Linked DNA regions of Homo sapiens. The protein of the gene in region 7 purifies or fractionates together with the protein of the main gene of each other region. This does not show direct contact. Each region holds a gene or a part of one and is shown on either strand. Other genes may lie near its edges.

Region 1 (3,500 bases), on a different chromosome or scaffold from region 7:
TCAAGCGATCCTCCTGCCTCAATGTCCTGAGTAGCTGGGACGACAGGCGTGTGCCACTGTGCCTGGCTAATTTTTTTTTTATTTTTTTAGAGATGGGACCTCCCTGTGTGGCCCAGGCTGGTCTTGAACTCCTGACCTCAAGCGATTCTCCTGCCTTGACCTCCTGAAGTGCTAAGATTACAGGTGTGAGCCACTGCACCTGGCTAGCATGGTTTTAAATTTGTGCTCAATTTAAATGGTATTAGGATAAATTATTTACAGGTAAATTTATGATATGATCTTGGTCAGTATTAATGAAAAATTATGTTGCCTACCTTCATACTTAAAGGAAATAGCAAATTTTAGTTAGAAGTTGGTGACAATTAATATATAATAATTTTTCCATCCAAGTTTACTGTAGACCGATGGCCCGAGTTCAGGGTTTCCTCCACATCCACTCATATCTTGGGCTCAGCAAAGAAGATCACAGGGCACCCACTCTATCTTAGGGGCCCATTCACTTGTCTCTCAGTCCTGCCCTCAGAGATCAAGGTTTGGTGTTCATTCATTCATTCATTCAGCAAACACTGAGCACTGCCTCCGTGCCAGGCTATGATACACAGTGAGGTCCAAGGTCAGATGAGATGAGGTCCTGCCCTCAAGCTGTTCACCATGCTTCAGGGAGAGCATAAGAAGAACTGCTCCAAGATGCAAAATGTAGACAAGCATAGGGACATGCTCACCCTTCCTGGTCATCAAACACCCAGCGATGGTGAGGTTGGGGTTAGATGGTCACTCCTGGCTAGTGACACTGTCCATTGCCTAATCCTTTTGAAAAGAAGTATGGCACTGCATCACATTGGTCATGGAAATTCCAGAGTTCCCTTTCCCAGCACTCTCACTCTGCCAGTTTTTCCCGAGGAAATCATTCAGCAGGAGGGACAAAGGGTGGAGGGCAGAAGTCATCCCTGCTCTTCCTGAGTCTGTGCTCTCCCCAGGGAAGGGGCTGTGTTGTGTTCAGCTTGTTCCCCTGGTGCTGACACGTGGTAGCACTCGGTGAACACCTGCTGGGTGAATGTCTGACTGCCGTGTAGTTACGATGTATAAGAGGAGGGAGGTGGCAGAAGGGGCAGTCCAGGAGCCCTCCACTGACCAGGTTCCTGACTTCTCTTGCAGCCACCAAAATGCCAGAAGAGATGGACAAGCCACTGATCAGCCTCCACCTGGTGGACAGCGATAGTAGCCTTGCCAAGGTCCCCGATGAGGCCCCCAAAGTGGGCATCCTGGGTAGCGGGGACTTTGCCCGCTCCCTGGCCACACGCCTGGTGGGCTCTGGCTTCAAAGTGGTGGTGGGGAGCCGCAACCCCAAACGCACAGCCAGGCTGTTTCCCTCAGCGGCCCAAGTGACTTTCCAAGAGGAGGCAGTGAGCTCCCCGGAGGTCATCTTTGTGGCTGTGTTCCGGGAGCACTACTCTTCACTGTGCAGTCTCAGTGACCAGCTGGCGGGCAAGATCCTGGTGGATGTGAGCAACCCTACAGAGCAAGAGCACCTTCAGCATCGTGAGTCCAATGCTGAGTACCTGGCCTCCCTCTTCCCCACTTGCACAGTGGTCAAGGCCTTCAATGTCATCTCTGCCTGGACCCTGCAGGCTGGCCCAAGGGATGGTAACAGGCAGGTAGGTTCTGGGGGAATAATACCCATCGTAACAATAAATATAAATGGCTAATTTTCATCGAGTGCTGCCAGCATGCTCTTTTTGATATGTTATCATAACTAATCCTGCATCACTGCAAAATTCCATTTTACAGAACAGGAAATTGTGGCTCAAAGACATTAATGATCTTACTGAAAATTCCATAGCTGGTAAGTTGGGATTTGAACCCAGTTCCTATGGATCTGAAACCCATGTTCTTTCTGCTATGGTAACAGGGTTTCCTAGAGGGCAAGGAGGAAAAGGTTGATGGCTTTTTGCTATTTGGAGCCAAGAAGGAGAGAGACTTGGCTTTTAGAATTGGACTCAGAAGGAGGAAAGTAACACACTTATGTACCCGGCCCTGAGGAAGGCAGGCATGTCTCAAATTTTATCGTATTTATTCTAAGGGCTTCCAAGAACTGATTTCTCAGAAAAGTCAACAGCAGGTTTTTCTGGGGCTAGATAATGGCTCCACGGAACAGCTAGAGCTGCATACGTTTCTTGCCACGAGGAGCTCTTACCAAGACAAGGTGGTTTTTAATGCCACCTTGGTTTTTAATGCATTTTCTTGGCGAAAGAATGCCAGACTCCATGTGTGAGAACTTCCACCAGTGAGTCGAGCCCAGGTGCCAGGCTCTGTAGGACAGTTTAAAGGTGCCCAGCCATACCTGACTACAGCACCTTAAATGCAGGCTGCATCATGGGACTCCCAGGTATGGACCAGGAGGAACAGTGGAGAGTGTTGGATGCAGGGCCTGGAGGGAACGGAGCAAGCAAGCTGGCTGGAAAAGACTTGGAGGAGGGCTTTGACCTGGGCCCACCTCATGCTGTCAGGCTCAGGGAGCAGGGAGTGCATTCCAGTCTGAGGGAACAATCTGAAAAGGCACAGAGATAAGAAACAATGCTCCTAGACCTCAGTTTTCTCACCTGAAAAATGAAGACTATAGTACCTACCTGCGGGCTCATGGCAAGGCTGAGAGATCATATATGTAAAGCTCAGCATAGAGTAGGTGTTCAGTCTGTGTTTGGAGACTAAACTGACCAATGCAGTGTCAACAAGGCCCACGGGGTGCTTGGGGATCTGAGGACTGCAATGTGCCTGCAGGGGGACCTCGTGGGTCAGAGCAGCGGGCTTCAAGGCGGAGAGGGCAGGCTGGAGCTGGCTTGTAGAAGGCCTTATGTGCTGGCTGAGGGCTCTACTGAGCCGAGGGACATCATCAAGGGGGGTGATTCTGAACTGAGGGATGGAGCTGCAGCCACAGCTGCCCATTCTGCACCATACGCAAAACTCTTTTGCTGAGCGGCTCCCAGGGCAGGCCACGGCCTTGGAGACAGCCATGTCGGGGGCCCATGGGGACTACCTGGATGAGCATTTTGCTTGTGGTTGCTGATGTCCACGAGCTGGGCAAGATGCTTACTGTTTGCAGCTTCCCTCCTTGAGTAGTTGGCCTGGCTTGGCAGGTGGGCCAGAGGCTGGGAGGCCTGGGCAGCAGAGAAAAGACCCCTAGCCTGGGAGCTAGAACCCCATTGGCTCCCACCTGTACCATTGACTGGCAGCTCACTTGAACAAGTCCCTGCCCCTCTGGCCCTCGGTTTCCTCAGCTGCTCAGTGAGGCCCTGCCCACTCCTGTGGCCTGTGACGCCGTCTGACTGCCCCACTTTTCTCCCGCAGGTGCCCATCTGCGGTGACCAGCCAGAAGCCAAGCGTGCTGTCTCGGAGATGGCGCTCGCCATGGGCTTCATGCCCGTGGACATGGGATCCCTGGCGTCAGCCTGGGAGGTGGAGGCCATGCCCCTGCGCCTCCTCCCGGCCTGGAAGGTGCCCAC
Region 2 (3,500 bases), on a different chromosome or scaffold from region 7:
GGGAGCATGTGAGCAAACAGCTACAGGTCACTGCAAGGTGAGGGTAGAGGAAGGAGAATAGACCTCAGGCTCTAGTGCTCAAGGGAGTAATCATGAAGAAAATAGAATTTTAACTGAACTTTGAAGGATAGATAGGATTTTGAGAGCTGGAGATGGGGGTACATAGGTGCAGAGGGCATTCTAGTTGAAAAGAATAAAACAGTGGTCACTGCCAACACTTATGTTTAATCCTATGAACCACATTGGGTGAGACAGGCATTATGTACTTCATGGTGGGAGCCTTATGTTTATCCCATTTGAGGACTGAGAAAACTGAAGTTTAAAATGTTGGAATACCTTAGCTAAGGTCACCTAGCAAAACGTGAAAAAGCTAGGGTTTAATGGGCTAATGCCCAAACCCATGCTCTTTCCCCTTGGCTACTGTGTAGCGGTTAAGGAAGGGCATGTTTGGAGAATGGGAAGAGGTCCAATTTGTGTGCACGTAGGGGAGAAGTGAAAGATAAGCTTGGGACCACGTTGTGGAAGACTAAATACCTGGACACTGCACCTAGGATTCAGGGTTTCATTCTGAAGGCAATGATGACTCACTGGAGGGTTTTAAATATGGAAATATGGAATTCAGTGGTTTGAGGGGCACAGCGGCCCCAGTGGAAGTGTGGTAGGTGTGAGTAGCAGTGGAGGGAGTGTTGCATTGAAGCATGACAGAGCTCCTACAGGGAACCTCAACAGGTGGAAGAGGAATGGTGGGCCTAGGTCAAGTGGAGTGGCACCGAGTGAGCAGCTTCTTGTGTGTATACCTGGTTTATGCTTCAGGAGTGAAAAAAGTTCACCACCCAATACTGAGGTTTGAGTTCTTTAACTAAACTCCAAAGACAACAGGTGTTTTATACATGGATTCCCCTGCCCCATTTATGGGTGGGGAGAGGGCAAATGGAACGTTAGGTTAACTAGTTTAAAGAGTCAAGGCAATCCCACCTGGATCCCTTCTTAAAAAGGAAGCCTGTGTCCAAGAGTCCCTTCTGCTGAGTTAACAAGACCCCTTCAACCCGTTCTCATCTTTGGGATTGAGGCGCCTGCAGAATTACAAGAGAGGATTTGTCCTCCTCTTCTCCAGAGAGCTACCTTGATTTTCCCCACCCCTGCCAAGATAGACATTCATGAATGCAGTCATCCACACCTCCACAAGTGCACACACACCAGCCATCCTATTTTAAAACAGACAAAAGCAAAACCAACCCAGGATGTCTCTGGACACCATAAACCAAAATAGTCGCTGGAAAAAACAGTGATGGTAGGTTCCAGATTTAAGATTCATAAAATGGTAACATTTCCAAAAATATCTCTGATGAAGACAGTCATATGTTAGTACGTTTTTAATTTTGCCAAGAGAGGCTGCTGTTTTAAAAAAGAGGATCTTTTACATTGCACGAATTTATCTTCATGAAAACCTTACTGCGTTGTCCTTATTTTTCTTATTCGCGGTTGTCCCACAAACATTTCATCAAGAAGCACCAGTTTCCTTTCTGTACCCTCAAGCCACAGGAGGTAGTTCCTTGGTTCCCTCCTGGGGTAGAAAGAAGGGCAGCAAAAAGAGCACTGTGCTAAGCTGGCCCTTCCCTCTCCACCCCAGGTCTCAAGAGTGCATGCCAGCTTCCTCCCCCGACCTCCAACGCACTTTGGATTCAGACTTTGTGTCTTGCTTCTTAGGACTTCTGATCAGCCTGCATGGATCCTGCTTGACTGGCCATGACTTTAGAGAGTAGTAGAAGACAGAAAAGTTAATACACCTTCTAATGAATTACCATGTGGGTACTGATCTTTCAAAGATAGTATAGAATAGTTTGTTGTGTGGTCTGTTTTTAAAGTCTGTTAACATGAAGCTACAGAAATTTGGAACAGACCCTTTAGAGATAATTTAGTCCAACCTCATCATTTTATAGTAAAAACAACAAAAGCCCACAGGAATTAGCTGGCTTGCCCCAGGTGCTGGGCCTGGCACTCAAGCCTTCCTCCTAATTCCATGGCTCTTCATCATGAACTGATGCTTCTCCCATGCTAAATCCTTGTGCTCTTCTTTGGCCATGAAAAGCCTGTTAACTCTCAGTGCTTTTTTATGTGTAGAAGGTGACAAAGCAGAAGGAAAATGGCAAGAAGAAAGATAACCAAAGAAAAATCAGATAGAAGGCAGGATACCCAGCGTGAGTGCAGCGGCTACACCCATTTTTTGCCATTTATTTCTGATGTCAGACCAGGTGGAAATATCACAAGGTGTCTTCAGATCCTTGTAATCACCTCTTGTTCCCTGGGGGGGAATCTGTGTTGCTCGCCAAGCTAAACTCTTGTGTTCAAGGACAGGGAACACAAGAATTGGGGTGCAGACTCTACATCACAGCCCTGCAGTTATCACGGGCCCATTGAGGGGAGGGGCCCGTGATAACTGCTGGGCTGTGATGTAGAGCCTGTACCCCAGTTCTGGGGTCCTCTCTGTGACAGCATAGTGCCTACTGTGCTGCAAGTGATTCTGAGGCATGGGCACTTGTGAAGCCTTCAGTTTGTGAAGCCTAATTCATGGATCCGGAGGATTGTACATACAACAACAGGAAATAATGAAGATAAAGTTGGACTAAATTATCCCTGAGCCTACAGCAGTGGTTCTCAAAGTATGGTTTCCACATCAGCAGCATCAGTATCACCTGGACCTTGTTAGACATACAAATTCTAGGCCCCCAGACCTACTGGAACAGAAACACCCCCAGGGACCCATGTTTTACTAACTCACCCCTCAGGTAATTCTGGTGCTGCACACTCAAGTTTGAGGAGCACTGGCTTAGGGAAAGCAGCCAGAGGCTTCTGTGGGGCAGAGCAGGGAGCCTGTGATTGGCTTGGTCTGGGCACTTGTGCTAGGACCAAGGGGGTGACGGGCTGAGGGTTCTGCAGAGAAGCAGCGTGGTAAAGGAAGGTCTCTGAGGGCAGCAGCCTGGGAGTGACTTTTAAGCCCACCCCTTAGGAAATTGAGACTCAAGTCATTAAAGCTTTCCTTTTGTTTACACTTGCCTACAATTGTTTTTTCTCAGAGCAAACTTGGCTCAGCACAGCCCAAGGTAAATTATCACAGATTCTGCAACTAATAAAGTTCAATGAGGACTTTACATGGCTCAGATGCTGTTGGTGACTGGCTCTTTCTTCTTTTTTAGTTAGTAACAGGAGTATGGGAAGGCAAATACAACTTCTTCTGTCAGGGCACACGCACCGCAGGAGAATCAGATATGAAGGTACTGTCTCTTTTTCAGAAACTTTATTATTATAAGTGTTGAGTTTTTAAAAATAAATTGTATAAAATACAAAATGGCCCATAACCTCACTGCCCAGGCAATCCCTGTTGATATTTTTAAAAGAATAAAAAAGGCAATATATACACATCAAATTAAAATTTGAATGTGAAAGGTATAAAATAAAACCTAAAGCATCCCCCTCTGTAAAAATAACTCCGGTTAACAATT
Region 3 (3,500 bases), on a different chromosome or scaffold from region 7:
AAACACAAAAATTAGTGTGGTGGTGCACACCTGTGGTCCCAGCTACTTGGGAGGCCGAGGCACGAGAATGGCTTGAACACGGGAGGTGGAGGTTGCAGTGAGCTGAGATCATGCCACTGCACTCCAGCCTGGGCAACAGAGGGAGACGTTGTCTCAAAAAAAAAAAAAAAAAAGTCTAATCTTCATCTTGCCTAATTATCACCTCAAAAAAAAAAAAACCTGACAACCTCGTTTATCATCTATGAGCTAGCCCAGCTATTTTCTAAGTTTCAGATTCATATATATAACTGCTAAAAGACATTTCCTCTTGATGTTCCACAGTTTCCTCAAACTCAACATGTCCAAAAGGGAACTCATCATTACACAAATCTCTCCTCTTCCTTGTTCTCTATCTTCATACTGTCATCACCATCTACCCAGTTGTCTAAACCAAAAGACTTAAGATACATTCCTGACTCCCTTTTCTCCGTTACTAATTTCTAAATACCTCTCAAGTTCATCACTACTTTCCAAATCCACTGTCATTATCTTGTTCAGACTACCATCATCTGTAAGTCTCCCAACCCTACTGTAAGTCTCCCAACTATTATGCCTGTCTAAGCTTTTACTACTCTCCAATCCATTTCCTAAACAACAGTGATCTGAGACATAAGACTTACCTAACCACTTAAAATACTAGTGGTTCACCACAATCCTTAGAATACAAAATTTTTAATATTGCTTACGCAAAGCCTTACATGACCTAGCCCTTAATTTTTCCCCAGATTTTTCTCCTGCTTCTCCCCATCAATTCTCTAGTCACATGGACCTGAAGTTTTAAAACATAATAGGCATTCTTTAACTTCTGGACCATCACAGATGTTGCTCCATCTGTCTACAACATTCCTTCCATAATTCATTGAGGAGAGACAGCACAGAGTGAGTTAAAAGCACAAGTCTAGAGCCACTTCTTGGGTTTAAATCCTGCCTCCACCATTTACTATCTGTGTGATTTTGGGCAAGTTACTTGCCCTTTGTAAAATGAAGATAATAATAGTACCAACCTCATAGGCCTATAGGAAGAAAAGAATGAATTCACATTTGTGAAGTAATTAATGCTGTGACTACCACAGAAAAAGTATCCTCTGACTGTTAGATTATATTGTTATTTTTATTCTAATCTCAGGATAAAACATGTCTTCCTCTGGGGAAGCCAACAATACTCTACCAGCACTAGAAACCTCTCCATAAAACCTCTATACTTCCCTGACCATAGCATTTATTATGCTCTGTTGTAGTTGCATTTTAACAGATTTGTAGCCCTCGAACAGGACAAATAGACACATAAATGGTCAAAGCAAGTCAAGTTAAACAGACGATATTAACCATGATAGACTACTTTTGCTAATTTTATAATTTTGACCTAAAGTTTGTCATTTTTCAGATGATATTTTCAGTTTTTGCTTTAAATTTGCTTTCCAAATTTAATAGCCTATAATGGCCCACAGACTTCGTCAAATAAAAGAAGCCACCAGCTATCAAAATAAAATTCAGGCATACACTCTGGGAAGGTGGGTGTTGGAGTTGGGATGTCTATGGCTAAAGAGATCAGAAACATAACTCATGAAACTCTCCTATATAAAAGAGTCTCCTATTTAGCATTCTTTTTATGAGAATAATCAGCACATCCCAAAAGTACAACAATAAATGATGTTCATTACAAAAGGCAAGATCCCAAAAGAAATTAAAGTTAATATCAAATATTAATTGATACCTATCTTATGTTTACATATTTATCATTTGTTGTAAGACAGAATGGTATCGATACCATTAACAAAAAATTTCTTTCAGAAGGAAAGACATACTCCATTTAAGAGAGTACTTTAACAAACTAATTTTTTAAAAAACGAACTACTGAAAAGCAAGCTTTAAATGTTACTAGACATATTTCAGTATTTCATTAAAAATAACAAAGCTGCGTAGCTTTTTCTAAAAACACAAAAGTAATTTAGCTTTAAAAAAATGCACGTTACCATAGAAATTATTTTGCTAGCAATAAAAAAGAAAGGTCATTGATCCTCCACAAATAAGAGGAAAATGGATGTATTTTCCTTTTTTAAACCATTCAAGACAAAAAACAGAAAACTCAGATGTGAACCACTGGAAAGCTAGCTTCCCTGGTAAGAAAGACTTCGGATTCTAGAGATTAGCATGACAAGGAAGCAAATAAAGTCCTACCTCCAATAATTAAAGTTAATTAAGGCCTTTCAAAGTCCAAAAATAGAAACAGGGAAAAACTTTTTTCATTTTAATTCATGTCACTATTACAAAGTGCTCAAAGTAAATATATTTTGGCAATTCTAGAAGTTAGAGAAAATAAGATTTAGTTGAGATGATTAATAACACCTGAGATTTAGTATGAAAAAAGTTACCTGTACCTTCTCTATGTGGACTTCTTTAATTTCAAGTTGCTCTGTCTCTTTCAAAAGGTTTATTCTGGCATCTTCTAATGCTTTTATTTCTTCTTTTAATTCTGATGCCCGATTAAAATCCTGTAAGGTAATGCAATTTTCCAAAGCTTCTTTGGCTTCGATAAGCTTAACTTTTATTTCAGCCATCTAAGGGAAGATATAAATTGTTTCAACACTGAACAAAAACTGTTAATATGAATATCTGTAGCAACTCAGGAGTATTATTTAATATCTCAACTGCCCAGAATTTAATGAGTCAGGCATATGCAAACTTGTAGTTTTCCTGACACAGAGATCTGCATATCTCTGAGACTGACATATGTGGTAACATTTTAAATATTCTTATAGTTTAACAATTAAACAATAATTTGATTATGTGAGAAACATTTCAGAACTGCACAGCAAGAGGAAAGAATAGACTTGCCCAGCTACATTACACTCAAGCACTTCTTTCATTTAAAAGAGACTTACCTTGAGTTCTTTCTTTCTTACATCAGCTGGATCGTTATTAACACCAACAGTAACAATGGGCGCCCGAATCTCTGAGATAATTTCTGTAACCTGTAAGTTCAGAGTACATGCTTTAATATATGTTTGATATATCAGCAAATAGTATCAAAATTCTATATAAAACTCCAAGTAGTATCCACCATATATTGAATAATGGAGCAAAAACATACTGGTAGAAATAGCACACATTCTGTTTGCTAGACAATTTTAGAAAAAAACAAAACAAAACAATATATCTGACTACAAAATGAAATTATTTGAATGGAAGGGAAATAGGCACACAGACAGTGAAAGTAAATTATCCCTCATATAATGTTTGAAAAACAGAAATATGAATTATGGTGCTTAAGATGAGACACTTAAATTCTCTGCCTAAAATCCTCAACCCTTCTCTTGTTCAGCTCTGTAGGAGTTAAACACAGAAAAATGGAATATCCTTTTATTCTTCCTTTGGGTAGACAATGCATAAATAATAATAGCATAAGGAAGGACTTTCCTTTCAGAACCACTTGTATATTGGAATTGGCTGATCAGGAAAAG
Region 4 (3,500 bases), on a different chromosome or scaffold from region 7:
ATATGACTATAATGTGCTGTGGGGAAGACCTTCTTGTATTGTATCTGTTTGGAGATCTCTAAGTTACCTGTATCCGGGTGTCTACATCTCTCACTAGACTTGGGAAGTTTTCATTGTTGAATAACTTTGAATGCAAATGGATTAAACTTTCCACTGAAAAGATATGGACTAGTAATAGATAAAAAATCATAACCCAAGTATATGCTGGGTACAAGAAACCCATCTAACATATAAAAACACATATAAGACTGAAAGCAAAGGGATGGAGAAAGATAGTCCATGCAAATGGAAACCAAAAGTCACTATACTTATATCAAATAAAACAGTTTGAGTCAAAAACAGTATAAAGAGACAATGAAGGTCATTATATAATGATAATAGATAAATTCTAGCAAGAGGATATAACAATTCTAAACATATATACACCCAACAACAGACCACTCAGATATATTAATATAAATAAAGTGTTATCAGATCTAAAAGGAGAAACAGACGCCAATACAACAACATTTGGGGACTTCAACACCGCCTGCCAGCATCTGACAGATAATCTAGACAGAAAATTAACAAAGAAACATTGAATTTAAACTATACGTTAGACCAAATGGACCTAACAAACATTCACAGAACATTTTATACAACAGTTACAGAATACAAATTCTCATCAGCACATAGACATTCTCTAGGAATGACCATGTTAGAACACAAAATAAGATTCAACAAATTTTTTAAAAATCGAAGTCATATCAAGTACTTCCTCAGACCACAATGGAATAAAACTAGAAGTCAACAACATGAGGAACTTTTGAAACTGTAAAAATAAATGATTAAACAACATGCTCCTAAATGACTACGGGGGCAAAGAATAAATTAAGGAAGAAATCAAAAAATTTCCCTCAACAAATAAAAATAAAAACACAACACACTGAAACCCATGAGATACAGCAAAAGCAGTGCTAAGATGGAAGCTTATATCAACAAGCACCTACACCAAAAAATCATTACGATTTCAAATAAACAACTTAATGATGTACCTCAAGGAACTAGAAAAGCAAAAACAAGCCAAACCCCAAATTGGTAAAAGGAAAGTAATAATAAAGATCAGAGCAGAACTAGACAAATTGGGACTTAAAAAACAATACAAAGGATGGATGAAACAAAAAGTTTTGTTTTTTGAAAAGATAAAATTGATAAAGCACTTGCTAGACTAACCAAGAAAAAAGAGGAAATACTCCAATAAAAAATCAGAAATGGAAAAGGAAACATTACAATTGATACCACAGAAATACATAAGATCATGAGAAGCTATTATGAACAACTATACACCAACAAACTGGAAAACCTAGAGGAAATGGATAAACTGCTACACATATACAAGCTACCAAGATTGAAATGGGAAGAAATGGAAAACCTGGACAGACCAGTAACAAAAAAAGTTGAGGCAGTAATTAAAAAACTCCCAACAAAGAAAAGTCCAGGGCCAGATGGCTTCACTGCCGAATTCTACCAAACTTTCAAAACAGACCTAACACCAATTCTCTTCAAACTCTTCCAAAACATTAAACAGGAGGGAATTCTGCCTAACTCATTCTATGAGGTCAGCATTATCTTCACACCAAAAGCAAACAAGGCTCAACAAAAAAGAAAACTACATACTATTATTCCTGATGAGCACAGATACAAAAACTCTCAACAAAATACTAGCAAACCAAGGGCCAGACATGATGGCTTATGCCTGTAATCCCAGCACTTTGGGAGGCCAATGCAGGAGGATGGATTGAAGCCAGGAGTTTAAGCCCAGCCTGGGCAACATAATGAGACCCTCGTCTCTACAAAAAATTTAAACAATAGCTAGGTGTGGTGGTACACACCTGAAGTCCTAGTACTCGGGAGCTGAGGCAGAAGAATCACCTGAGCCCAGAAGTTGAAGGCTGCAGTGATTTATGATTGCATAACCGCACTCCCTCCTGGGCAACAGAGCAAGACCCTGTCTCCTAAAAATTGTGTGTGTGCGCGCGTGTGTGTCTGTAGAAGCAAACCAAATCTAACAACTCATAAAAAAAACACACACACATCATGATCAAAGGGGATTTATTCCAGGAATGCATCCCAGGGATACAAGGATGGTTCAACATATGCAAATCAACAACTGTGATACATCACCTGAAGAGAATGAAGGACAATAACCATATGATCATCTCAATAGATGCAGAAAAAACATTTGAGAAAATTTAGCATCCCCTCATGATAAAACTTGCAACAAACTAGGGATAGAAAAAATATGCTTCACATAATAAGGGCTTATATGATCTATATAATAATAATATAGCTATCATTATTTTGAAATGGGGAAAAGCTCAAAGCCTTTCCTCTATGAACAGAAACAAGACAAGGATGCCACTTTCACCACTTCTATTCAACATCATATTGGAAGTCCTAGCCAGAGCAACCAGGAAAGAGAAAGAATAAAAGGTACCCAAACTGGAAAAGAGGAAGGTCAAATTATCCCTCTTTGCTGATGATATGATCTTAGATCTAGATAAACCTAAAGATTTCACACAAAAACTCTTAGATCTGATAAATAAATTCAATAAAGTTGCAGGATACAAAATCGACATACAAAAATCAGTACCATTTCTATACACCAACAATGAACTTGCTGAAAAAGACACCAAGAAGGCAATCCCATTTACAATAGCTATAAAAAAAACAAAAACAAACAAAAAACAACTAGGAATATATTTAACCAAGGAGGTGAAAGTTTGCTACAAGGAAAACTACAAAGCACTGTAGAAAAAAATTAAAGATGACATAAACGAATGGAAAAACATTCCATGCTTATGGATTGGAAGAATTAATATTAAAATGACCATACTGCCCAAAGCAATACACAGATTCAATGCAATCCCTATCAAAATACCAATGTGATTTTTCATAGAATTAGAAAAGACAATCCTAAAATTCATATAGAACCAAAAAATATCCTGAATAGCTACAGCAATCCTAAGCAAAAAGAACAAAGCTGAAGGCATCACACTACCTGACTTCAAAATATATTACAAGGCAATAGTAACCGAAAAAACATGGTACCGGTATAAAAACAAATGCACAGATCAATGAATGCAACAGATTAGATAATCCACAAAAAAAATCCACACATTTACAGCCAACTGATTGTCAACAAAGGCACCAAGAACATACACTGAGGAAAGGATATCCTCTTCAAATATATGGTACTTAGACAATTGGATATCTGTATGCAGAAGAATAAAACTGGACCCCTGTCCCTCACCATATACAAAAATCAACGCAAGGTCAACTAAAGACTTAAACATAAGACCCAAAACCCCTCATTTCAAGAAGAAAACATTGGGGAAATATTTGAAGACATTGGTCTAGGCAAAGATTTTATGGCTAGGACCTCAAAAGCACAGCAACAACAACAAAAAAATAGACAAATGGGACTATATTAAACTAAAAGACTTCCGTGCAGCAAAGGA
Region 5 (3,284 bases), on a different chromosome or scaffold from region 7:
ACAACACAAGGCTTGTACGTGTAAAGCATCAATTTTAATAAAAAGGCCATTTTCCTGTTTACAAATGGCACTTTAACATTAAATTATCAAAGTTTATTAATATTATTACATACAGACTAGTTTTGGAGAAGATAAAGTTTGATATGTGTAACAAAAGTTAGAAATAATGTTCGCTGTATGAGTTTTAACCCAACTGCTTTATAAGGCTGTTTCTATTAGATCAGTGTTTGGTGATACTAATCTTGAGGTGGAGAACATTAGCAGCAATAAGAATTTAAGTGTAATATAAATAGCAGACTTGGTTTATAAATTAAATTTCTTTTGTAGCATGAGTTTTCACTCCTTTCTTCCCCTCTCATTTAAAAAATCAGGGTGCGTCTTTTGGGAGCTTTAGAACACAAGGATGTTAGAAATGTCTTAGTTCAAGGACATATTTTTCTGAATACCTCCCTTACTGAAGCATTCTGCATGGCGATCGTGGAAGCAGCCAGTTGTGGTTTACAGGTAAAAAGCTTTGAGGGCATTCATGGTTGGGATTTCTGTGTATTTTGAAAAATAATGAGACACATTCCATAATAATGTTTTAACTGGTTTTGTTGATCTTCCTGAGGTATGATTATGGTGGAGTATGTGTTCTTTCTTTCTTTTTAAGGTTGTAAGTACCAGAGTTGGTGGAATTCCTGAGGTGCTTCCAGAAAACCTTATTATTTTATGTGAGCCTTCAGTAAAATCTTTGTGTGAAGGATTGGAAAAGGCTATTTTCCAACTGAAGTCAGGGACATTGCCAGCTCCAGAAAACATCCATAACATAGTAAAGACTTTCTACACCTGGAGGAATGTTGCAGAAAGAACTGAAAAGGTATGTCACATGCTGAGAAAAGATTGTGTCTGAACTCTTACTTGATGTTTCACGTACACATTTGCTTTTTCTTACATAGATGTTTACCATTTTTGTTCTATTGCTTAAGTTGATGAAATCTCTTCCAGGTGAAAAGAAACAGATTTTGGTACACACACCGGGCTAAGTGTCTGGTCAAATTATTGCGTTTGACATTTGAAAATAGCAGTAATACAGTCTAGCCCCCTCATTAAACTGGGCATAAAGAAGTTACAAAATTTTCTAAAAGTCACAATGAGTAGAGACAAGACGAGTATTAAATCTACTCTTAGATATTTTCTTGAAGCTGTTGATAATTCTAAAGCAAACATCTCTATTAGGAAATGCATGGTTTTGCTGATTGCAGCAACTTTATAACTTGTGAATATTTAATTCAGGCTACTTCCTAAACCTCTTGTAGCCCTTTTGCTAACTACTGTGATTTTCTCCAGGAAAAGGATTTTTGCATCTTTGGGCTGATTGAGAACATAGTAAGTTAGAATTCAAAATGTACGTGACAAACGTGGGAAAAATCACAAATAAAAAGCAGCAACAGAGAATTTCCAAAAGGACAGGTATAGGAAATAGATTAACACCCTTAGGTAGGAGATTACAGTTGTGGGAAATGCTTCCTGAATTTGAATTAGGGACTGCTTTCATTCTCAGTTTCATCCTTTACGTCCTTTTCATGATGTTCTCTGCCTCATGCCTCTTATTACCATGTAACAAGCTGAACAGAAACAACTCAGCTTCTTAGTATGTAGAAATTGTGAACCAGAAAGATAACCAGGTGGAACATGGAGAAGGTAGTAGTTTAGAGTAATGCTACCAACGTGATATTCAGTGGAGCAATGAGTTTTTAGCCTAGAGTAGATAGCAAGTTGGAGCTGAGGAGAATAGCTCTTTACTGTAAGGCTTTCTTACTTGGTTTGAATGATGAATTCCAGTATATAAGATGAACTCATATGTGAATGGAAGTTCTAAAAACTTATCTCTAAAAATTGTCTTATACATTTTCCATTGAAACATGAGATGTTTGCGACAGTCAAACATTTTTGACTGAAGCATTTTGAGACATTCTGACCTTCTACAAGTCTTGTACTATCTCTCCCATATGAAACATGGAAAGTTGGAGTCTAGTGCTTACCTGTTGGGAGTACATGTCAGAGTCCCCGGGCAGCCTTTTCAGACTCTCTCTACTCCATCTTGATGTCCCCCTGCCTCCCCAACCACTCCCTAGATTCCAGTGTTATCCTTTAGGAGCAGAGATAGAATTGGGGGTATAATTGGCAGGGATATTTGGTCAGACAGGTTATTTTGATGATACCATCCTGATCTCCACTCCCTTTGAGAACCATGGCACTGTTAAGTTGTGACTTGACCTTCTTCATTGACATCGTATAAACCCCAGAAGCCTGAGCCACTGTAGGTAATAAGTTAACAGGGAAAGAACTGTGGTGACGGTTTGTCAGCATATAGTAAAGGGGCTAATTGGGATTTTTTTGGTAACCACATTTTTCTTTTGGTTAAAGTAATAGTACAGCATCTGTATTTTTTTTAATTCTATGGTGATTTATAATACACTTTTAGAAAAAAGTAAATCCTTGCCTATAATGGATTGTCATCGCTAACATTCTCTTCATAATAGTAAATTGTTATTTTATCACTTAAAACTATAAGTAGATTAATTGACCTGAAATAAAGCTGGACAAAAAAGTCAGTTTGTAGTTACTCTTTTAACCCTATGACATTTTAATTCATTTCAACTCCTCCTTCTTAGTTTAACTGTGCTATTTAGGAAATCGATCATGAAATTAATTTGGAGTTCATGCTGTAAACATACTTCTTCAATTGCAATTCACCAGTCTCAGCATAATTCTCAACATAATTCTGATTAAAATGTTTGTATTCAGAATGTCCTCAGGGTAAAAGAGCTCGATGAAAACATGCCGTACCTTTCAAGGGCTGTTGACCTGTACAACATGCACTGCATGTTATAACTTCCTTGAGTTCAAAAGGAGACGGTTTAAAGGTCTAATATATGAGACTAAGCACAAGTAATACTCAAATTACAAAATATGAATGTTGGCCCATTTGATGTGTTCTGAACAAGTATGTTTAAAGATCTTCGTTTTTTGATATTTTAGAGCTTAGTACTTAGCAGTGTTTTAAAAAGCAAGCCACCTACTTGCTCAGCAAAAAACGTTATTTCATTTGCCAGCATTTGACCTATACTATCTACTGAAATTTCCCCCATCTCTTTATCTTCTTTTATTTGAAATCCATGAAATGCTTCTGCATGTCCTCACCATCCATGCTCAGCAACATGTACAGCCTCATGTGGCTGTTGAAAGAGGAGGCTCTGTGTTCCCAGAAGTATGCTAGATTGTAGCTCTCTGCTTGTGGT
Region 6 (3,500 bases), on a different chromosome or scaffold from region 7:
AGCCTGGGGCCACGCCAAAGCCCAGCTGGTCGATGAAAGGAGGTTCATCCTGACTATGGATCTGCACTTTGATGCCTGCTTCGAAGGACGTCTCGTCTAGGGGAATGAGGAGTGTGTGGGTTGGGAGGGCTCCTGACTCCCTAACACCCCTCAGACCTGGGGGCATCCTACCTCTCCTGGAAATAAGCATAGGGTGCACTGGGGCTGGGGTGGGGGAAGTCTATAGGGTCCTAGCCCACCCCCTAGCCTCCTTCTGGGTTTACCAGCTCTGAGCTGCTCCGATGACCCCTGTATCCTACACACTTCTTTTCTTACCTGGCTTCTGCTCTGCATCTTGATGTTTCAAATACTTTCTCCCAGAGTGTCACTGTTTCAGATGCTCTCCATTTCTCCCACTCCCTTTTTCCCTTTTCCCCCATCTCTCTCTGCCCCAAGGCCCCCCGAGACCAGACAGGCAGGCAGCCCGAGAAGAGAGGGAGTTATTTATAGAGTGGCGGCGGCGTTGATGGAAGAGGATGGCTGGTTACCTTGGAGAGTAACTGAACCAGGAAGTGGGAGCCAGAGAGATGTGAGTGTGGAAGTCAGGTAGAGTCAGTGATAGAGATGGTGAGATGCTGGAGGGAGAGGGGAAAGCCCGGGCCCTGCCCAGGTCTCACAGTGAAGCCCAGGAATCCCCTGGCAGAGGCTGGGGCCTAGAGCCATGCAGAGGGGCCCCTGAAGTGGGTGACGTACCAGTCTCCCCCCACACAGGCAGGTACTCGTCCTGCTGGATGTCCAGCATGATTTCCAGCCCATTGCCCGTCCCACCCTTCATGGTCTTCAGCCGCGGCCGCCCATCTCGGCCCGAGTTGAACGTGTAGCACTTTCCATAGCGTGTGAAGACCTGGCGAGGGCAGAGTGGAGAGCCTAAGAGTCCTGCCAGCACCCTCTACTCACCAAGGGCTGTTCCTAGCCACCCCAGCTGTTGGAATCTCAACACCCTTTGGGAATGGTTCCTCCCGTGCAGCCCATTCTCCATTTGCTCCCCTCTCCCACCTGTTTCTCACCCTTTCTTGCCCTCTGTGTGCCCTGGAAAACTGTTCCTGGTAGGGTGCATCGCCTGAGCTCCTTTGCCACCTGCATGGGCTTCTAGTTGGGGTTGACAGTTGGGAGGTATTGGTAATGGCTCAGAAGGCAGGAGGAAAGATTGGGGTATGAATCCTTCCCCAGCCCTCGCCCCTCTGTAGCTCTAGTAGTGCCTTAGGCCCTCCATGATTACAGATCCTGCCAGGGCTCCCTACAGAGCACTGTCTTCTTTTGTGCTTCTTCAGCCTAGAAGTGATAACGATTTCCTAGTACTGCTCACTGCCTCAGTCCCCCTTATTGGTTTCCTTAACCCTGCCCCCAGCTCTGTCAGCAGTCCCTTTGTTAAAGTCTTCAATTAAATCATCAAGTAGCTGTCTTTTTCCTGCCAGGACCCTGACATATACATTTTCATCACCAGGATCCTAACACGGCCCCTCCTTGGGACACTTTCCTCAGGCCCAAGCTCCTGAGGCCCTCCAAGACATATCTTCTCTTCTCCTAGATTTCACTCTGGGAATCTGAAATTCTGCTTTCCCCAAGACCCAAACTCAGTTTTTTTTTTTTGGGATGGAGTCTTGCTCTGTTGCCCAGGCTGGAGTGCAGTGGTGCGATCTCAGCTCACTGCAACTTCCGCCTCCTGGGCTCAAGTGATTCTCCTGCCTCAGCCTCCCAAGTAGCTGGGATTACAAGTGCACAACATCACACCCGGCTAATTTTTGTATTTTTAGTAGAGATGGGGTTTCACCCTGTTGGCCAGGCTGGTCTCAAACTCCTGACCTCAGGTGATCCACCTGCCTCAGCCTCCCAAAGTGTTGGGATTACAGGCATGAGCCACCGTGCCCAGCCAAACTCAGTTTTTTGGTTTCATTCAGCCCCTAGCCCCTTGGGTCCATCATTATTCCATTATCCCATTATCAGCAGAACCTGAAAGTAGACCCAGTTGCCATGCCAAGGACCACACTCAACCAAGCACCAGCACCTCTTCTTCCAGCACTTGGGACTGAGCCCCCAGGGCATGGTGTGTGCGTTAATGCTTTTGCAAAACTAGGAGGGCCTCAGAAGATATCTCAGCCCCAGGGGCTGTCTCCCCAGTCTTCTCCCCACTCCATGCCCCAGTGCAGCCCTGGTCACAGTGCTGATTAAAAAGCTGCAAAGAGAAAAGTAAACCAGTTATCCTTGGCCTTTTCCCCACAGCCTCCTTGAATGTCCCCAAGTTGGGGTGGCTGTGCTTTTACTACTGCTGGATGGTGACAAAGTCCACAAAACAGGTCATAAGGTGAGTCAATACAGCCCAGAGCAGGGGAGAGACAAAAGAGTTTCAGGCCAGACTGGAGCAGCAATGGCAGTAGGTTACTAGGGAATACGGTCTTTGCCCCCTTCCCCCTTCCTAGAACAGCCTCCTCCATTGACCTCCAGAAGAGGAGACATACTGCTCTCCCCACTTTGTGGGTGAGGTCCAGAGATGAGGCAAAGAGAGAACTCCAAGGGCTCCTAGTCCCCAGCCCCATGACCAGGTCTTGCGGCACCCAGCCACAGGCTCCAGGCTGGACATATGCCCATGCCTACACTCCATCCGGAGTTGTATGGGATTAGAGGTGTCTGAGGCCGGCTAGCAGCCCTGTCTTGCGCCGGTTCAGAGGACAGGGCTGCTGTACAGTGGATTGCTGCTGCCACCTGGTGGGCCTGGGTGAGAACTGTCTGCTCTACTCTCGGGCCCAGAGGTAGACACATTCCTATGGCTCCTGGCCTGAGGCCCAGTGGCCCAAACCCCCAGGCCCCTGTATGCCTGCAGTCATCCCATGATGCACGGGTATGATGACACCCCCTGCCCCTACGCTAGGGAGGGGGTGGAGGACTGAGGGATGGGTGTGTGGGGCAGGGAAGGCCTGGCATCTGGGAGCTGGTGGGGCAGGAGAGCAGTCAGGCCAGACAGACCTGGAAGATGAACTTAGGAGAGACAGTGGGGTACCAGGTGGCCCCCCAGCAGGGAAAGCCCTGGACCCCTGGGTGGGGGGCCAAGCAGAAGGACAGTTCCCAGTGAGAGCTTCCCCTAGGAAGAGGGTCCCTGGCCACTTAAAGCTGGGGAGAGGGATATGATTTAGAGACCTGTTATTTACCCTCAGACACACACACACACACACACACACACACACACACACACACACACACAGAGCTGGTGGGGGTGGGGCGTCCATAGGAGGGCACAGGAAGACCAAGTGAAGATGCAATGAAGTCCCTGCTGCAGGAGATGCTGACAAGGGCCATGGTGGGGTGGGGTTGGGGGATATCCCCACCCCTCTACTGTCACCCTTTCACTCCCTTCTCTTGTACCACCAGAGACCAGGCAGCACCCACCCCAGCTTCAGTCCATGGGTGCTAGTCAAAATAGTGAACAACTGGCCAGGCACTGGCGTCCACCAACAGATCAAAGGTTG
Region 7 (4,246 bases):
CTGTCTCAAAAAAAAAAAAAAAAAAGTCATTGCCCCAAATAGAAACCCATTCCCATTAGCACCCACTCCCCACTTTCCTTCACAGCCTCAACAACCATGAATCCACCTTCTGTGTCTATGGAGTCACTTATTCTGGACATTTCATATAAGTGGAATCACACGACATGTGGTCTTTTGAGTCTAGCTTCTTTCTTTCTTTTCTGAGACAGGCTCCCACTCTGCGGCCCAGGCTGAAGTGCAATGGCGTGATCGCAGCTCACTGTAACCTCAGTCTCCCAGGCTCAGGCGCTCCTCCTGCCTCAGCCTCACAGCAGAGACCACAGGTGCGCACCACCACACCCGACTATCTGGCTTCTGCCACTTAGCGAAATGTTTCTGAGGTTCTTCATGTTATAGCACGTGTCAGCACGTCACTCTTCTTCATGGCTGAGTAATACTCCACTGCGTGAAGAGACACATTTATCTGTCCCCGTGTTGGGCATCTGCACTCTTCCCACATTTTGGCTATACTAAATTGTCCTGCTACGAACACCTGTGTAGTTTCTGTGTAAAGGTACAGTACCTATATGTTGGGGTGATCAGACCCAACCCCAGGTCGTGGGGGTGACAAAGTCCGGCGGAGTCAAAGGATTCAGAAAAACACAGAGAGAGAAAGGTGGCACACCAGGGGGCCATCGCTATTGTGGAGGCTGCAAAAGCCCGAGCTCTGGGAGCCCACGGTATTTATTGGTAATGCAACAAAGAAACAGATGGTGAGAATATGGAGGTCAAAAGACCACGTTGCATTAAGCACATGATTACAGCTGTGCCGGTTTAGCATTTATATGGAGCATGTTCTGCTACTTGAGATAATGGGAATAGGGGCCTAGGAGGGCTAGAAGGAAGGAGCCAGCAAGTCTAGACACATTCCAAAGGACATCATGCAAGCCCTGCCTCAGTTTCCCTCCCAACACCTATATGTCTTGTTGGTATACATGTTGTATTTTCACAACGAAAATGCATGAGAAAAAGGACACAGATGGCTTATGTGTACTGATGTGTAGCATTCTCTAAGATCTGACATCACAGAGCTGGACAGCACAGCTGTGCACGCACCCCCCTGGCTGGGAGGTGGCACATCCACACATGAGGGAAAAACACTGCCAGGACATCTCAGGGCACTCTCAGGAAATGAGGAAGCTGCTGGAGAAGTTTCTAGCCTTGGGGGAGGTCAGGACGCAGAGCCATCTCCTGGAGCAAAGTTCCCTCCTCCTCTCTCCCTCCTCCTCTCTCCCTCCTGCAGCCCTTCCTTCCGACCCCTGGCCCTTTCTCTCCAACCTTCCCCTCCCCTCCTCCATTTCCCTCCTCTTTCTACTTTCAGAGAACACAGGGTTCCTGCAGGAAATGGGGCAGTTTCACCTTCCTGAGGAGGGGCCTGGGAGGGGCAGCAGGTGGCCGGGTAGGGCCAGCCCAGCTGTGAGCCTGGCGTGGGAGCTGCCTAGGCCGGGCCCTGCCAGGGAGCAAGTCTGCATCGCAGAGGCCAGGGTGAGTGGGCTGGGGAGTCGGTGCGCCAGGGTACTGGGGTGCCCACCTGGGGTGGTGCAGGCCCGGGGACCCCAGGGCACCACTGTGGGTGGAAGCTGGGACCAGGCGTGCGGGGCAGGGGACGCGGCGGCTTCCTGGGATTCTAGGAGGCTGAGGCCAGGTGTGTGCGGCAGGGGACGGGGCGGCTTCCTGGGATTCTAGGAGGCTGGGACCAGGTGTGTGGGGCAGGGGACGAGGCAGCTTCCTGGGATTCTAGGAGGCTGGCACCAGGTGTGTGGGGCAGGGGACGCGGCTGCTTCCTGGGATTCTAGGAAACTGGGGCCAGGTGTGTGGGGCAGGGGACGCGGCTGCTTCCTGGGATTCTAGGAAACTGGGGCCAGGTGTGTGGGGCAGGGGACGCGGCGGCTTCCTGGGACTCAAGGAGGTGGGAGAGCTGCTCTCAGACCCGCCGCTGTCCTCCCACTGGCCCTCCCCGTGGTCCCTAGGATGAGGTCTGGACCCGCCAGGCCCTCCAGAGGCCCCACAACCCCGCTTGTCCACTGTGCCGGCTGTTCCTTCCTTGTGGCGCCCAGTGCGGTCCTAGGCACCCTTGGGACTCAGCTCACGTACCCCTTCCTCCAGGAAGAGTTCTCAGAGGCTGTGTGAGGAGCGCCGAGTCCCCGGACTTACTCTCTGTTCTGGAATTCTCTGCGCAGTCATCTGCCTTCCCGCCCAGCTAAGAGCAGGGCCTGTTGTCCGGCCCCACAATTTCCTTCCAGGTGGAAAGGATTTGCTGAATGAAAATCAAAGCTGTGGCCGGGCGCGGTGGCTCACGCCTGTAATCCCCACACTGTGGGAGGCCGAGGTGGGCAGATCATGAGGTCAGGAGATCGAGACCATCCTGGCTAACACGGTGAAACCCCGTCTCTAATAAAAAATACAAAAAATTAGCCGGGCGTGGTGGCGGGCGCCTGTAGTCCCAGCTACTCGGGAGGCTGAAGCAGGAGAATGGCGTGAACCCGGGAGGCGGAGGTTGCGGTGAGCTGAGATCGTGCCACTGCACTCCAGCCTGAGTGACAGAGCGAGACTCCGTATCCAAAAAAATAAAAGAAAAATCTTCTCCCCGGGTAGGGTGCGGGGAGCTTCAGGGTTATCACAGGACATGCTAGAGAGAAAGCCTTGGGCACAGGCGGAAGTTGGAGTCTGGAGCTGCGGCTGGGCTAGCGAAGGGCAGAACCTACTTCGGCCAATGGCTCTTACACAGCCAAGCTATTTTCATGGTGAGGGTCTAGTAGCCTCCACATCTCTTGGCGAATTCTTGCTGATTGGCGTCTGACCCCATGGAGAAGCTCAGTGGGTGTCATGGGTGGAAGGGGGCATCTAGGGCCTCCAAACGTGGAAGTGTCTCTAAAATACCTCCCGCTGGGCCTCAGTCTCCTTGTCGACAAAAGGTCAGCTTTGACAAATCTCCAGTCGGAGGCCAGGAGCAGACGGGGAGGGTCCCTCAGTCCCTGCTTGCAGCTTCAGGGGGACGTAGGCTGCGGTGGACGGACACTGAGCCCCAAAGCGGCCTCTCAGAGCCGCCCCTGAGGGGTGGCCTCACAGGTCGGGCTGAGGCTCCCAGCTCCCACTGGGTACAGAGCGGGCAGGCGGGCCTGGCAGGGCAGTGGTGCTGGTCTACACGCAGCTCTGGAGTCTCTGGACCTGTGTCCTGTGCGTACATCCTGGCTCCATCTCCCATGAGCCAGGGGGCTGGACCTGTCTTCTCTACCTCAGTTTCCAAGAGTAGGAGACAGGGGTAACAGCAGCCTTGCTCTCAGGGGTGAGGGCGTGGGTTAAAGGGCAGGACACCCATGGAAGCAGTGGTGGCTCCGAGCACCTGCTCAGCCTTCCCAGGTCTTCAGAGCCCACAGGCAGAGCCCACCCTGAGGGAGGAGCAGCTGGTTCTTGGGTGAAGTGAGCCCCCAGGACCCCGCCTTGCAGGACCCCGCGAGGCCCCGGTGAACTGGAGCCGGGAACCGGCCCCACGGAGGCACGTTGGGATTTGGCCACCAGAGGGCAGGAGCTGCAGCAGCCAGGCAGGCGGTCAACACGGGGGCCCCGGGGTCCTGGCCGGCTGGTGGGGTGTGAATTGGAGAGGAGTGGGCTGTGTGGAGGGAGACCAAGCACCAAGGCCCGCCCTGGCCTCTGAGTGTCCACCCCTTTCACAGGCCCATTTCACAGATACTGAGGCCCAAAGGCGCAGGGCTCAGGCGTCCCCTACGTGTCGTGTCCCCAGGCAGGAGAATTACTTGAACCTGGGAGGCAGAGGTTTCAGTGAGCTGAGATCACACCACTGCACTCCAGCCTGGGTGACAGAGCAAGACTTCATCTCAAAAAAAAAACACAAAAAGTGAATTTAAAATGCTCCCTGAACTCCAGCTGGGGTGCGCAGCAGGAGGCTGGGTCCGTGGGGCTTCGGGGGCTGGGCTGGGGGTTCAGGTGGGTGGGGGAGTCAGTGCTGTGGGGATAGGGCTCAGAGCCCAGAAACAGACAAGCCCACACAGGTAGCCAGTGTCGACGAAACAGGAGAGGCTGGGACCTGTGCCCTGGAAGGACACAGCCAGCGGGTCCTGGGTCACCCACTCCGGGGCTGACCGGGCACAGTTTCACAGAGCAGTATGGCCCAGCCAGCTGTGAGAGGATCGGACAGACGGGCGGAAAGGAGGGGAGACAGCGGGTGTGCTCGGGGCTGTGCCGGGAG

What was found.
Region 1: the proteins of DPEP1 (region 7) and STEAP3 purify together in Homo sapiens (affinity purification with mass spectrometry; 2 studies listed by BioGRID and IntAct, with this or other methods). This does not show direct contact.
Region 2: the proteins of DPEP1 (region 7) and ELOVL5 purify together in Homo sapiens (affinity purification with mass spectrometry; 2 studies listed by BioGRID and IntAct, with this or other methods). This does not show direct contact.
Region 3: the proteins of DPEP1 (region 7) and NCAPG purify together in Homo sapiens (affinity purification with mass spectrometry; 2 studies listed by BioGRID and IntAct, with this or other methods). This does not show direct contact.
Region 4: the proteins of DPEP1 (region 7) and STEAP2 purify together in Homo sapiens (affinity purification with mass spectrometry; 2 studies listed by BioGRID and IntAct, with this or other methods). This does not show direct contact.
Region 5: the proteins of DPEP1 (region 7) and PIGA purify together in Homo sapiens (affinity purification with mass spectrometry; 2 studies listed by BioGRID and IntAct, with this or other methods). This does not show direct contact.
Region 6: the proteins of DPEP1 (region 7) and ASIC1 purify together in Homo sapiens (affinity purification with mass spectrometry; 2 studies listed by BioGRID and IntAct, with this or other methods). This does not show direct contact.

The regions. Positions count from the first base shown.
Region 1 is NC_000002.12:119,244,334-119,247,833, forward strand, and holds part of STEAP3 (metalloreductase STEAP3), read left to right. Parts: intron 1-88; exon of another isoform or gene 89-1,155; coding exon 1,156-1,655; exon of another isoform or gene 1,656-2,548; intron 2,549-3,345; coding exon 3,346-3,500.
Region 2 is NC_000006.12:53,275,951-53,279,450, reverse strand, and holds part of ELOVL5 (very long chain fatty acid elongase 5), read left to right. Parts: intron 1-2,379; exon of another isoform or gene 2,380-2,458; intron 2,459-3,194; coding exon 3,195-3,272; intron 3,273-3,500. UniProt on the Homo sapiens protein: Catalyzes the first and rate-limiting reaction of the four reactions that constitute the long-chain fatty acids elongation cycle.
Region 3 is NC_000004.12:17,824,479-17,827,978, reverse strand, and holds part of NCAPG (condensin complex subunit 3), read right to left. Parts: intron 3,012-3,500; coding exon 2,922-3,011; intron 2,598-2,921; coding exon 2,418-2,597; coding exon of another isoform or gene 2,412-2,417; intron 1-2,411. UniProt on the Homo sapiens protein: Regulatory subunit of the condensin complex, a complex required for conversion of interphase chromatin into mitotic-like condense chromosomes.
Region 4 is NC_000007.14:90,218,240-90,221,739, reverse strand, and holds part of STEAP2 (metalloreductase STEAP2), read right to left. Parts: intron 1-3,500. UniProt on the Homo sapiens protein: Integral membrane protein that functions as a NADPH-dependent ferric-chelate reductase, using NADPH from one side of the membrane to reduce a Fe(3+) chelate that is bound on the other side of the membrane.
Region 5 is NC_000023.11:15,322,240-15,325,523, reverse strand, and holds part of PIGA (phosphatidylinositol N-acetylglucosaminyltransferase subunit A), read left to right. Parts: intron 1-371; coding exon 372-504; intron 505-652; coding exon 653-859; intron 860-3,284. UniProt on the Homo sapiens protein: Catalytic subunit of the glycosylphosphatidylinositol-N-acetylglucosaminyltransferase (GPI-GnT) complex that catalyzes the transfer of N-acetylglucosamine from UDP-N-acetylglucosamine to phosphatidylinositol and participates in the first step of GPI biosynthesis.
Region 6 is NC_000012.12:50,074,596-50,078,095, reverse strand, and holds part of ASIC1 (acid-sensing ion channel 1), read right to left. Parts: intron 1,129-3,500; coding exon of another isoform or gene 1,036-1,128; intron 884-1,035; coding exon 733-883; intron 97-732; coding exon 1-96. UniProt on the Homo sapiens protein: Forms voltage-independent, pH-gated trimeric sodium channels that act as postsynaptic excitatory receptors in the nervous system, playing a crucial role in regulating synaptic plasticity, learning, and memory.
Region 7 is NC_000016.10:89,612,196-89,616,441, forward strand, and holds the start of DPEP1 (dipeptidase 1 isoform a precursor), read left to right. Parts: upstream 1-1,446; 5' UTR 1,447-1,524; intron 1,525-4,246. UniProt on the Homo sapiens protein: Hydrolyzes a wide range of dipeptides including the conversion of leukotriene D4 to leukotriene E4. Hydrolyzes cystinyl-bis-glycine (cys-bis-gly) formed during glutathione degradation.